2 separate regions of the Homo sapiens genome follow, and region 2 is linked to region 1. The links come from fine-mapping of genetic effects on plasma protein levels. A gene starts in region 1. The other region holds a variant in brackets. All regions are shown on one strand. Distances are between the middles of the regions.

Region 1 (5,386 bases):
AATTAAAAGATGAATAAACACACCCAAACAAGGAATGAGAAAAAGGGCATTGCAAGCAGAGGAATGACATGAAAAAAGGCATGGAGGTGTGACCTTGAATGGGGTTGTTCCAGGGAGTACCAACATGTGGTGTTGATGGGCACAGATTTGACTGGATGGAGTATTAGTGCTGGAGGCAAGAGTGATATGAAGGTGTACGACTCAGAAAGATTTTCCTGCTATACTGAAAGTCTTGGTGAATGTGGGGCTCAATTGTAATATTTCATCATAAGTGCAGCAACATCAAGTTTGCATTATCAAAAAAGTACTCTGATAATACATATACTTAAATTAATATTTTCTAATGAAGTCTCAATTTAATCATGATCAGATCTTAGAATATTTTAACTTCATTCCTAACTCTCTTTAATCTCGTTTGTTATTGTCTGGTATTTTTGTTCCTACTTATATTAAAAATGAAATAAAGTTACTATTAATTTTATTTTAAACATTATTATAACTAATACAGTCAACACATTTCTTTATTGTAACACATCTTCTGGGATTATTTTATTTTTTGACAAAGGACACGCTTAAGCAGTAATTTCAATGAGTCTATGGATAGCAATCTTACTACGTTCTCATAACTTTAACATATCTTTTTGTCATACTCACCCTTAATGGTTGGTTAGCTGGGTACAGAATTCCAGGTTGAAAGTTGTTTTCCTTTGCACTTTAAAGCTAGTGTTCCATACTACCGAGCCATAAAAAGGAATGAAATAATGGCATTCACAGCAACCTGGATGGAATTGGAGACTATTATTCTAAGTGAAGTAACTCAGGAATGGAAAACCAAACACTGATGTTTTCAGTCATATGTGGGAGTTATGAGGATGCAAAGGCACAAGAACGATCCACTGGACTTTGGGGACTCGGGCGAAAGGGTGGGGGGTGGCAGGAGATAAAAGGCTACACGTTGGGTATAGTATACACCGCTTGGATGATGGGTGCCCCAAAATCTCAGAAATCACCGCTAAAGAACTTATCATGTAACCAAACACCACCTGTTCCCCAAAAACCTATTGAAATTAAAAATAATAAATAAATAAATAAAGCTACTATTCGAAAGCTGCCTGGCTTCCACTTTATCTCTCCATTATGGTGCCATCCCCATCCTTGTCACTTTGAAGGTGATCATTGCTGATTTGGGGCTTTTAGGATTCTCACTTTGACCATTTCATGTATGAGGTGTTTATATGTAGACTTTTTTTTTTTAAATAAACTTACTATTCAGTGGACCTTTTTGATTCAGACAATTTTCTGGTCCTTTACATTCTTACATCTCAAAGGTTTATGTGAGTCCTATCAATGCCTTAATTTGGAGCTAGTCAATGTGAGGGTTCAGTAAGAGACCTCTTAAAAGTCCTATGAACATCTTGTTTTCTAATCTGTTCTACTCTCTTCTCTCTCATCTCAAGTCTTTAAATCTGGATAATGGCATGGGGATAGCAGACTAAGGGTTGGGATGGCTGCTGGAAACACAGGAGATCTATCTAATCACCCATTTTGTTAAAACTTTTCTGTCTTACATCTGGACCAGGACTTCTGAAATTGAAAGGCTTGGAGTTAACATCTTTGTACGCCATTGTGCCATGAAGCAATGATGATTCCCATCCAGCTGCCTAAAGAGAAAGAGGTTTGTGTCAAACATTCTGATGGGAGAGATTCTTTAAAATGTTCTTTGTGAACCATGAAAGCATTACTTTCTCATGTCCTACCATGAATTTACACAACTGATGCAAAAATCTAATAACAAAGGTTGAGTAGCATTTTCCAAACAACAGTGAGCTGGGAGCAAGGAAGCTGGCTTCTGATATCAGCTTCACCCACAACTGTCTGTGCATTAAACTAGTCACAATGTTTCTCTAGGCCTCAATTTCCTCACCAGTAGAACAAAAGAGTAAGATTTGATAACTACTATGGTCCCTTCCAGACTTAAAGTTTCCAGACATAAAGGTCCTTTACAGACTTAAATCTGTAGTTTAAAGTTGAGTCATCTCTGGCACCTACAACCTAACCCTTTGCCATCTATACTGGAAAAGAAAATCTTGTTACTCTTTTCAAATAGCCTATTTTTCAGTAGAACTGTATTTTGGCAAACACCTATATTTGGAGTCAGAAGGACAAGGTTCAGTGTCCAGGTCCACTGCTGACCAGTGTTGTGAACCTCGGAAGGTTTCTAATCTCTCTTAAGGTTGGGTTTCTTGAGTGTGTAATGGGGATATGTGTCCTATGCTGCTCACAAGGATTTTGTTGGCATCTTATTTGATGACTTCACTGAAAACCCGTTATTGTAACACACTCTGTTGATGTAAGCTATTTTGACATGATCATCCATGTTCTGCGGGAGAAGCTCAAATAGTAGATCTCTGAGGAAACTCACGCATGTTGAAGGAGTGGAGTCGGTGCTTTAGGAAGGAAAATCTGTGTGTGGGTCTCAAGTCTCACCGCATGGGTCATAACCTATTCCTGACCCTGACAGAAAATCCTTCTAGAAATAAAAGAGAAATAAAGGAAATCCACCATACCAAGGCATAAAAAGACAGCCATGAAAAAGTAACATAAGGGGAGAGGAAGATGGGCTTATAACAGATTACAGGATGTTGTCAGTTTTAATAACGTGATGTGAAGAAAAGATTCTGTTTGCACACAGGGAGAGGTTCTTTTCCTGGCTAGTCAAAGCACACCTTACGTACATTCTGAAGCCGTCTCTTATATGATTCATTTTTTTCACTGTAGATAAGACTTTTATGGATGGATTGTTTTTCTCAAATAATATTATCGCTTTGTGACTAAAGTAAAGATTATTAATTCCTGAGGCAAGAAGATATAAAAGCTCCAGAAACGTTGACTGGGACCACTGGAGACACTGAAGAAGGCAGGGGCCCTTAGAGTCTTGGTTGCCAAACAGGTAATCCTCCTCGCGGTTGATGATGGGGGACTTTCTTTAAACATCTGTTTTCCTCTGTCAGCTATTAGCCAGGCCAGAAATGACAAATTGTATTTCTAGTGAGGCTTGTCAGGCTTTCTGTTGCTGTGTTGTTTGATTTAAATTATTTACCTTCTTTTCTTCCTTCACTGCAAAGAGCATTGGCTTTGGTGTCAAGCTGTTGGGTTAAATCTTGGCTCTGCAGTCTGGTAGCTGGGAAACTTTAGAAAAGTTACTCAATCATAAGTGTCAGTGTCTTCATTTGTAACATGCATTCATGAGATCTACAGTGCAGGTTTTTTGTTTTTGTTTCTGTTTTTGTTTTTGTTTTTGTTTTTTTATGGAGTCTTGCTCTGTCTCCCAGGCTGGAGAGCAATGGTGCAATCTTGGCTCACTGCAACTTCTGCCTCCCAGGTTCAAGTGATTCTCCTGCCTCAGCCTCCTGAGTAGCTGTGATTACAGGCACTTGCCACCACGCCCAGCTAATTTTTGTATTTTTTAATAGAGACAGGGTTGTGCCATGTTGGCCAGGCTGGTCTTGAACTCCTGACCTCAGGTGATCCACCTGCCTCAGCCTCTCAAAGTGCTGGGATTTCAGCCATGAGCCACCACACCCGGCCCAGTGCAGCTTACTTATGAACATGACATGCAGACATTCAATGAATATCAGTTCACTAAAAATTATTCACAGATTAGTAAAAAAGATGCTGCCTCTCCCTTCCCCCAGATGGTCACCTTGACAGAGAAATTCTGTTTGCGTTTTAAAGGGGTTTGAGGACATTGAAAATACACTATTACTTTTGGAAGGAAAGTTTAGCAAAGTGCAAGGTTCACGCAATGATTTAAAAAGAAGTAAGGGGTGGGGAAGGTCACATCCACACTCTCCAAGCTTTGTCTCATTCTCAGTTAATGTTGCCTTAAAGTGTTCAGATGGACCCCAGAATTGATTTTCCAGAAAAGTCATCATTTACATTATTCTCTTTAAGCAATCCATTATTTGAGAGTTAGATTGTATATTCAGATTTTTTAATCATAAAGTATGATTAAATGTGAATTCAATGAATTAACTCATTTTAAGAATTATTTGGGAGGGAAATCCAGAACTCAGTTTCATACTTATGTTAAAACAAAGCCCAGACAGATGAAAATAGAACAGTGATAAATATTTTAACCTTATGTGACAGTAATGGCCAGTCTTTTGATATAAATTTAAAAATTATTTTTAAAAACATAAAAAATAACAATATTTTTGAAAATTTCAGAATGGCAAAAATTATAATAAGTAAGAGAAAAATACAAACTGAGAAATACTATTAGTAACACGTGAAAGGCAATAAACATACAAAAAAGATCTCACAAATAAACATACAAAAAAGATCTCACAAACAATGAAATAGAAAAATGTGCAAAACTGTAAAATGAAAATTCACCAAATACTAAAAGCAAATCATTATATAAAAAGATGTTCAACTTCATTAGTAATTATAAAATATTTTAAAACACTAAGGTTCTTCTTTAATATACCAAAATTAGCCAAAAACTTGACAAAATTAAGCATTCTCTGGGAGCTTAGGGAACCAATCCTTTTAGTGCCCTATTAATGAGGTAAATATCACAGCCCATACATTTTAACAAAGGGTATTAAAATGACAATGTGCATGTTGTGTGATGCCACAACCCTATATATGAGAATTTATACTAAAGAAAAAATAAAAAATGCATGAAAGTTATGTGAGTGCAAGACAATGTATTACAATTAATCTGTTTCTGAGAAACAAAACCAGGCTATAGGACTATATGATCTTATTTTTATAAAATTGTACACAGAGAGAGGTGCATAGAAAGATATCTGTAGGCTACTCACCAAATTATCTCCTGGAGATGGGATTTACTTCTTATTTTCTAGTTTTGCATTGATTTTCTAATAGCTCATGTGTTGTTTGCTAATGGGGAAAAGATAAAGCCATGTTCTTTATTTTTAAAAATGATGTCAACTAAGTGTAAAGGAAAGAGTGCTGATGGAGTCAGATCTGCTTATAGCTGGTGTCCATGAACAAATGACTTCATACTTACTGACCTCAGGTTTTCTCATCTGTAAAATGTGGGTATTGGACACTGTGCTCACGTTTAATTTTAACATTTAAAAATTCAATGTCGGAGCCATTCTATTGGATTTTCTTGACAACAGAATGCCCATATCCGTCTTACCTGTGAGGAAGCTTGCCTTGGGCGCCCTCTGCTGGCCCTCCTGAAGCTAACAGGGGCGAGTGCTCGGTGGTTTACAAATTGCCTCCATGCAGACTATGAAACTGTTCAGCCTGCTATAGTTAGATCTCTGGCACTGGCCCAGGAGGTCTTGCAGGTAAGAACAAAATCTCTTAAAATTTTCTAACCTGTACATCTAACTTGAGATTCCCT
Region 2 (5,386 bases), 530 kb before region 1:
TCCCAACAGATGATTCAACTGGTCCTTAATGAATAAAAGGTGATCAAACAAGAAAAGAGACTTATATTGTTTGAAGGAAAGATGAATGTCTCTTCTTTCCTTAAACAAGAAGTAGTACTAACAAAGATTCCTTGCTTGGCCAAACTTTAGTCAGATGTCTATCTTCCTTGCAAAATCCAACTTTTTTTTTTTTATGTGGTACAATGTGATGTTTTGTTCTTTTTTTTAAATTTATTATTATTATACTTTAAGTTTTAGGGTACATGTGCACATTGTGCAGGTTAGTTACATATGCATACATGTGCCATGCTGGTGCGCTGCACCCACTAACTCGTCATCTAGCATTAGGTATATCTCCCAGTGATATCCCTCCCCCCTCCCCCCAACCCACAACAGTCCCCAGAGTGTGATGTTCCCCTTCCTGTGTCCATGTGTTCTCATTGTTCAATTCCCACCTATAAGTGAGAATATGCGGTGTTTGGTTTTTTTGTTCTTGCGATAGTTTACTGAGAATGATGATTTCCAATTTCATCTATGTCTCTACAAAGGACATGAACTCATCATTTTTTATGGCTGCATAGTATTCCATGGTGTATATGTGCCGCATTTTCTTAATCCAGTCTATCATTGTTGGACATTTGGGTTGGTTCCAAGTCTTTGCTATTGTGAATAGTGCCGCAATAAACATACGTGTGCATGTGTCTTTATAGCAGCATGATTTATAGTCCTTTGGGTAAATACCCAGTAATGGGATGGCTGGGTCAAATGGTATTTCTAATTCTAGATAGAATGTTTCCTCTTATAACTCATAGTGAATATGACTGGACAATGAAACTATTTTGTAATTTCTTTCCTGAAAGATAAAGGCGTTAGAACATAGAATCTTTCATTGATTCTACAGAATCTTAAGACTCCTTCAGAGATGGCAGTCATTCGTACCGTGCTGAACATCATGTTGTCACGGTCAGAATCAGAACTAAATTGATTAAGGTTCTGAAACAGTTTGGCACTCTTGGGCACTTATTCTGATAAGAAAGCTGATGAGACAGGGTAATGAAAAGAGGCTGCAAGAAATGACCATTCATGCATTCAGCCAACATTTAGGCCACCCTCCTGTATTCCAGGCACTGTACGTGGCACTGAGAATGCAAAGCAAAACGAGTCATGGTCTACTGGCGGGAGCCTTCTCAGCGGAGAAAAGATCAACAAGAAAAGTGCCTGCTGGAGACCTCTCCTAGGGCATAAACCAATATAGAGGTGGGGCAGCTACGTCAGCCTGAGGTGTCCTTAGGCAGAACAGAAAGTGAGAATCAGAGCAGTATCTCATTTCTGAACACCTGGATTGTAGCTTTCCCTGGACTGACTGTCAAAGGAGGTGGTTTTAAAAAGCAAGCCAAACAGGTTTCCGTCCTTTAGGAAGACCCTGGAACGTGCCAGTTGATTCTGACAATTTCTCATGAACAGAAACACCTAGGAAGGGAGAACTGGTGAGTCTTTTCAAGAAGAGGAAGTCCCTCAAAAGGGGCTGTGTTTCGCAAACGGCACCCCAAAAGGGCTGAAATACTTCGATCTGGAGGAAAAAGACTCAGGCACTGAGGGAAGGGGAGGGTGCACATCTGGGGTAATTTCAAGGCTTTTTCCGTGTTATCTGAGGTGGCAACAAGTAAAGATTTGTTCGTTTTATTATTTTTTTAATTTTTAAAGGTGTTCTTTTCCCCCCTTTTCCCCCTCCCGGCCACTCCGGTTTGTGTTTGCCACAAGACTCATAATTCCTTTAGAAAGTGGAGTCGAATTCATAAAAGTGATGGGGGGAGAGCGCGGAGAGGGAAGGCTGGGAGCCCCAGGGAGTCTTCACTACCTACACTGCCGCTCAGCTCCCGGCGCGAGTGGAGGTCGGTGTGGGGAGACGCGACTCCTGCCCGGGATGGCTGACACTCTGCGAGCCCCGGCGGCCCGCGGCCGGGCCGGGTGACTAGGCGGAGGGCGCGGAGGGTCCGCGGCGGGCGGGTGGCGCTGCAGCAGCCTGGGCACGGCTGCCGCCGCCCGCGGGCGAGAGTGTGCACGGGTGTGGAAGGCCGGAGTGCGGGCCGTGAGGGGTGTGCGCGCTTGAGCCGGAGCGGGGCTCGCCCCTCGTCGGCTCCCGCCGCCCAGCCGGTGATCGCTCTCCGGCCGTCCCCGGCACCCTC[G/A]GCCCCCCACGGCGGTTGGTCCGGGCGGGGGAAGGAGAAAGTGAGACTCGGTGTCATCACCAATCCATCGCCAGAAGGGGAGGTAATTGGAATCCAGCAGCGGCGAGCAGCAGCTGGGCAGTCACATCTGGAAATGGAAAGCCGACCTCCACCTCCTCCTCCTCCTTCTCCTCCTCTCACCCAGGATCACTTCCGAAACCAGTTGGCCTTCAGCCCCTGCCTCGGCCAGAGGTTTCATTTTTAACTGAATATTTACGAAAGCTGAAAGCGTGCGAGGGGGGTGGGGTGGAAATAGCGGCTGCTTCTTTTCCAAGGACTTATTTAATGGGGATGTGTTCAAGGCAAGACCGAATTCAGAAGGATATCGACGTCGTGATCCAGAAGTCCAGAGCTGAGGACTGCCTGTTTGCAGGTGAGTTCTTGCTTTTCCAGAACCTCGGACCCCGCGCCCCCTTCCCAGTTCTCTGACCGCGACGTGTGTGGCTGGGGGTGGGGTGGAGGGTTTGCACGTCCGCATTCCGGGGTTCATTTGGCAACAGCTGCTGCAACGAACACGGGAGCCAAAAGCCAGAGGGGGTGCCAGCCTCGCCCCTTCCCCTCCCCCCACCCCCAAGTCTGGGGCAGCTACCAGCTTTGAGGGCAGAACCCGCGTGGCCCGAGCGGGGGTCTAGGCGAAGGGGCAGTGCGTGGTATTTCCAGCCCCGCGTAGTGCCCGAAGCCTGCAAGCACGCCTCCTGGGTTCCAGCAGCGGCGGCAGAGCGGGGTTGGTTGGACCCGCCAGGTTTGCGTAATGGGCTGAGCGGCGGCGGCCGGGAATGGAGCTTGCTGCGCTGCGCTCGTAAGCTGCGCCCGGCGCCGAAGACCCCCGGGGGGCAGCGCTCGGCCCATCTCCGGCCCCTTCGGCTCCATCTAGTCCCCTCCGACTGGCAAAGAGAAGGGATTCCTCGGATTCCCAAGGCACCCAGCGCCCCTGCCTGGGGGGTCGCCTTTCGTCCATTTTGCTCCCCCGGGAGAGAGATCGGATTTTGCGTTCGCTGCCGCGAGCCCGGCGGGGCTGCTTCCGGCCTCCCCGACCGGGAAATTCCCGCCGTTGCCATGGCACCCGGCACTTGCTGCCGGGGGCGGCCTGCCGCTGCACCCAGTCGGGGGCGCGCCGCATCCCCTGGGACGCTGCGCGGAGAGACCTCGCCGCCCTCTAGCCCTCGCCTCCCGCCCGGCCAGGCCTCCCCTGACTCCACCAAATGGAGGGCCCAAGTCCTGATCGGGGTTAAAACAAATCCACTCCAGGGGTAGCTTTTGACAGGACTTTCTGTTTCAGATTTCAGATACTCAGACTCCACCTTTACTTTTACCTATGTTGGCGGCCCCAGAAGGTATTTATGGGTGTAGAGTTGCTTCATTTCCTGTTCACACTCTTGTGTTTCCTTTGTTCTTAGCGTGTTCCGTGTTCGGGTATTTTGGTTGCTTGTTTGATTACTGTGGCTTTTCTTTACCTACAACCCAAGCCTGACGTCCCTCGGTTTTAAATAGCAGGGGGAGGGGAATCAATGTTTGATTCAGGTGTTTCGAAGACCACGCCACAGGCGATGAGCAGAACTCTTCATGTTGAAACGGTTCTGCTACAGTACTAGATTGCTCTCAGGCGATTTGGGGTTGATACAGGCAAGCCGGTGCAAAACTGGAATACTGGATATGAAGTGAAATGTATAAAAGACATAAAATGTCACAAAATAGTTTGATCACAAGTGTTGATTTTCCTGGTGAGTTGGGGCTGCGTGTTTCCATGTTTTCTGAAGGTTCACATAAACATGCAGCCTGCCAATTCTCTGTATATTTTTTTTTTCAATGAGTGGTATTTCGGTTTTCACGTTTAGTTGTAAGACAGAAATTGGAGACTTATATGTAGCTGGAGTGGATGACTTCTTTCTTTTGGGGGAAGAATGAGAGATGCACATTTCGTTAGTAAATTGTGAACAACTTGAAACAAACCCAAATCCAATTGTGAATTTAAGAAGTAGAGTTAAAATGAAAGGTAGCCATTCAAATACTATGCCTTGCTGCCTTCACTTATTAAGTTAGGATTTTCTTCCTTTTAGCCCTTTAGGGATACAGTAGTTTAAAAGAGCAGTAGCCACATATGAAAGGATCAGATTTAGCTTAGAGGGAATTCCTTAGACCAGCCCTGCTGTTAAGACTTGACATTCAATATTGTTTGATCACATTCCAAAATATAGCTTAGCTAATGGCAACATTTGTAAACATATAAATTGCAAAAGAAGCTTTCTTGTGTACATACATTTTTAAAAGCTTGAAATTGATGTGAACTTTTAAAAACACGTAGGATCTGTATTACATTCTACATCTCAAAACAAATTTAATTAAAGTGAATATCATTCCAGTATATACAATATGCCTAAGACCCAGAATTGGCACACTGATTTACTAGTTGAAAATATAACAGTATTCACCAAACTTCAATGTATACTTTTTGGAGAGAATGAAATTACAGTATTTCTTAATTTACTGTAATGTCATCTTTGTAATTATGAATTAACAATTCAATGAGAGGAGACTTGGTTGATTAAATTAATGCTGGTCCTACACATTATATCTAAAGGATCTTCGTATATGACTACTATCTTCTTGGATTATTTTAACAGTTAAAATATACAAAGTGGCCCATTAAAAACAGAGTTGACTTTTCACCATTGCTGTTTTTCTGGTGAGACATGTGGAAAGGAAGGACAGGTGGACTTTTCAACTAACTAGCTCTCTGATTTTTAATAAGATACCTCAGTTCTTTTGGCCTCAGTTTACTTATCTGTACAAAGGGTAAGTCATATGCTTAATCACTAAGATCTGTTAGATACTGCAGTTAAGATTCTTTATCAACAAATTACTGAACTCTAGTGTTAACATAGCTAGAGGTGGAAAAGGAAGCAAGACCAGGTGTTGGGATGAATAATTAACTAATCGAGATAACATCAGTTTTCACCATAGGAACAAGTACCATCGTTGCTCTTAAAGTAAGAGATGTTTCCTATTTTATGTAATTTTACTAAGGGATAATGTTTTCTTTTGTCACTGATTTAAATGTACCTGGATGTTTCTCAGCCATGTGGCTAAGATCGAACACAAGTAATACCTGGGCCTTTTATATCTAATCTAATGTAGACCAGCCTGTTAAAAGAGAAAGACAA

Which allele goes with the higher level. Positions count from the first base shown, and alleles are read on the strand shown. Strength reflects both the effect of a copy and how common the allele is.
In carriers of allele G in region 2, the plasma level of the protein whose gene starts at base 2,899 in region 1 tends to be higher than with A alone (weak association).

Evidence for each region. PIP is the posterior inclusion probability: the model's chance that the variant is causal. Protein levels are from antibody-based Olink assays in UK Biobank. Linkage for the fine-mapping came from a reference panel and not from the study's own genotypes, which makes the PIPs less certain.
Region 2: its variant is fine-mapped to the plasma level of the REG4 protein (UK Biobank, PIP above 0.99).

The regions. Positions count from the first base shown.
Region 1 is chr1:119,808,973-119,814,358 of GRCh38, reverse strand. It overlaps REG4 (regenerating family member 4), which reads left to right and starts at 2,899. Exons shown (of 6, transcript NM_032044.4): 1 at 2,899-2,950.
Region 2 is chr1:120,338,929-120,344,314 of GRCh38, reverse strand. It overlaps the pseudogene LOC124904391. Among named protein-coding and RNA genes, the nearest start is that of NBPF8, 73 kb to the left of the region's middle. The variant G/A (reference allele first, on the strand shown) is at 2,187.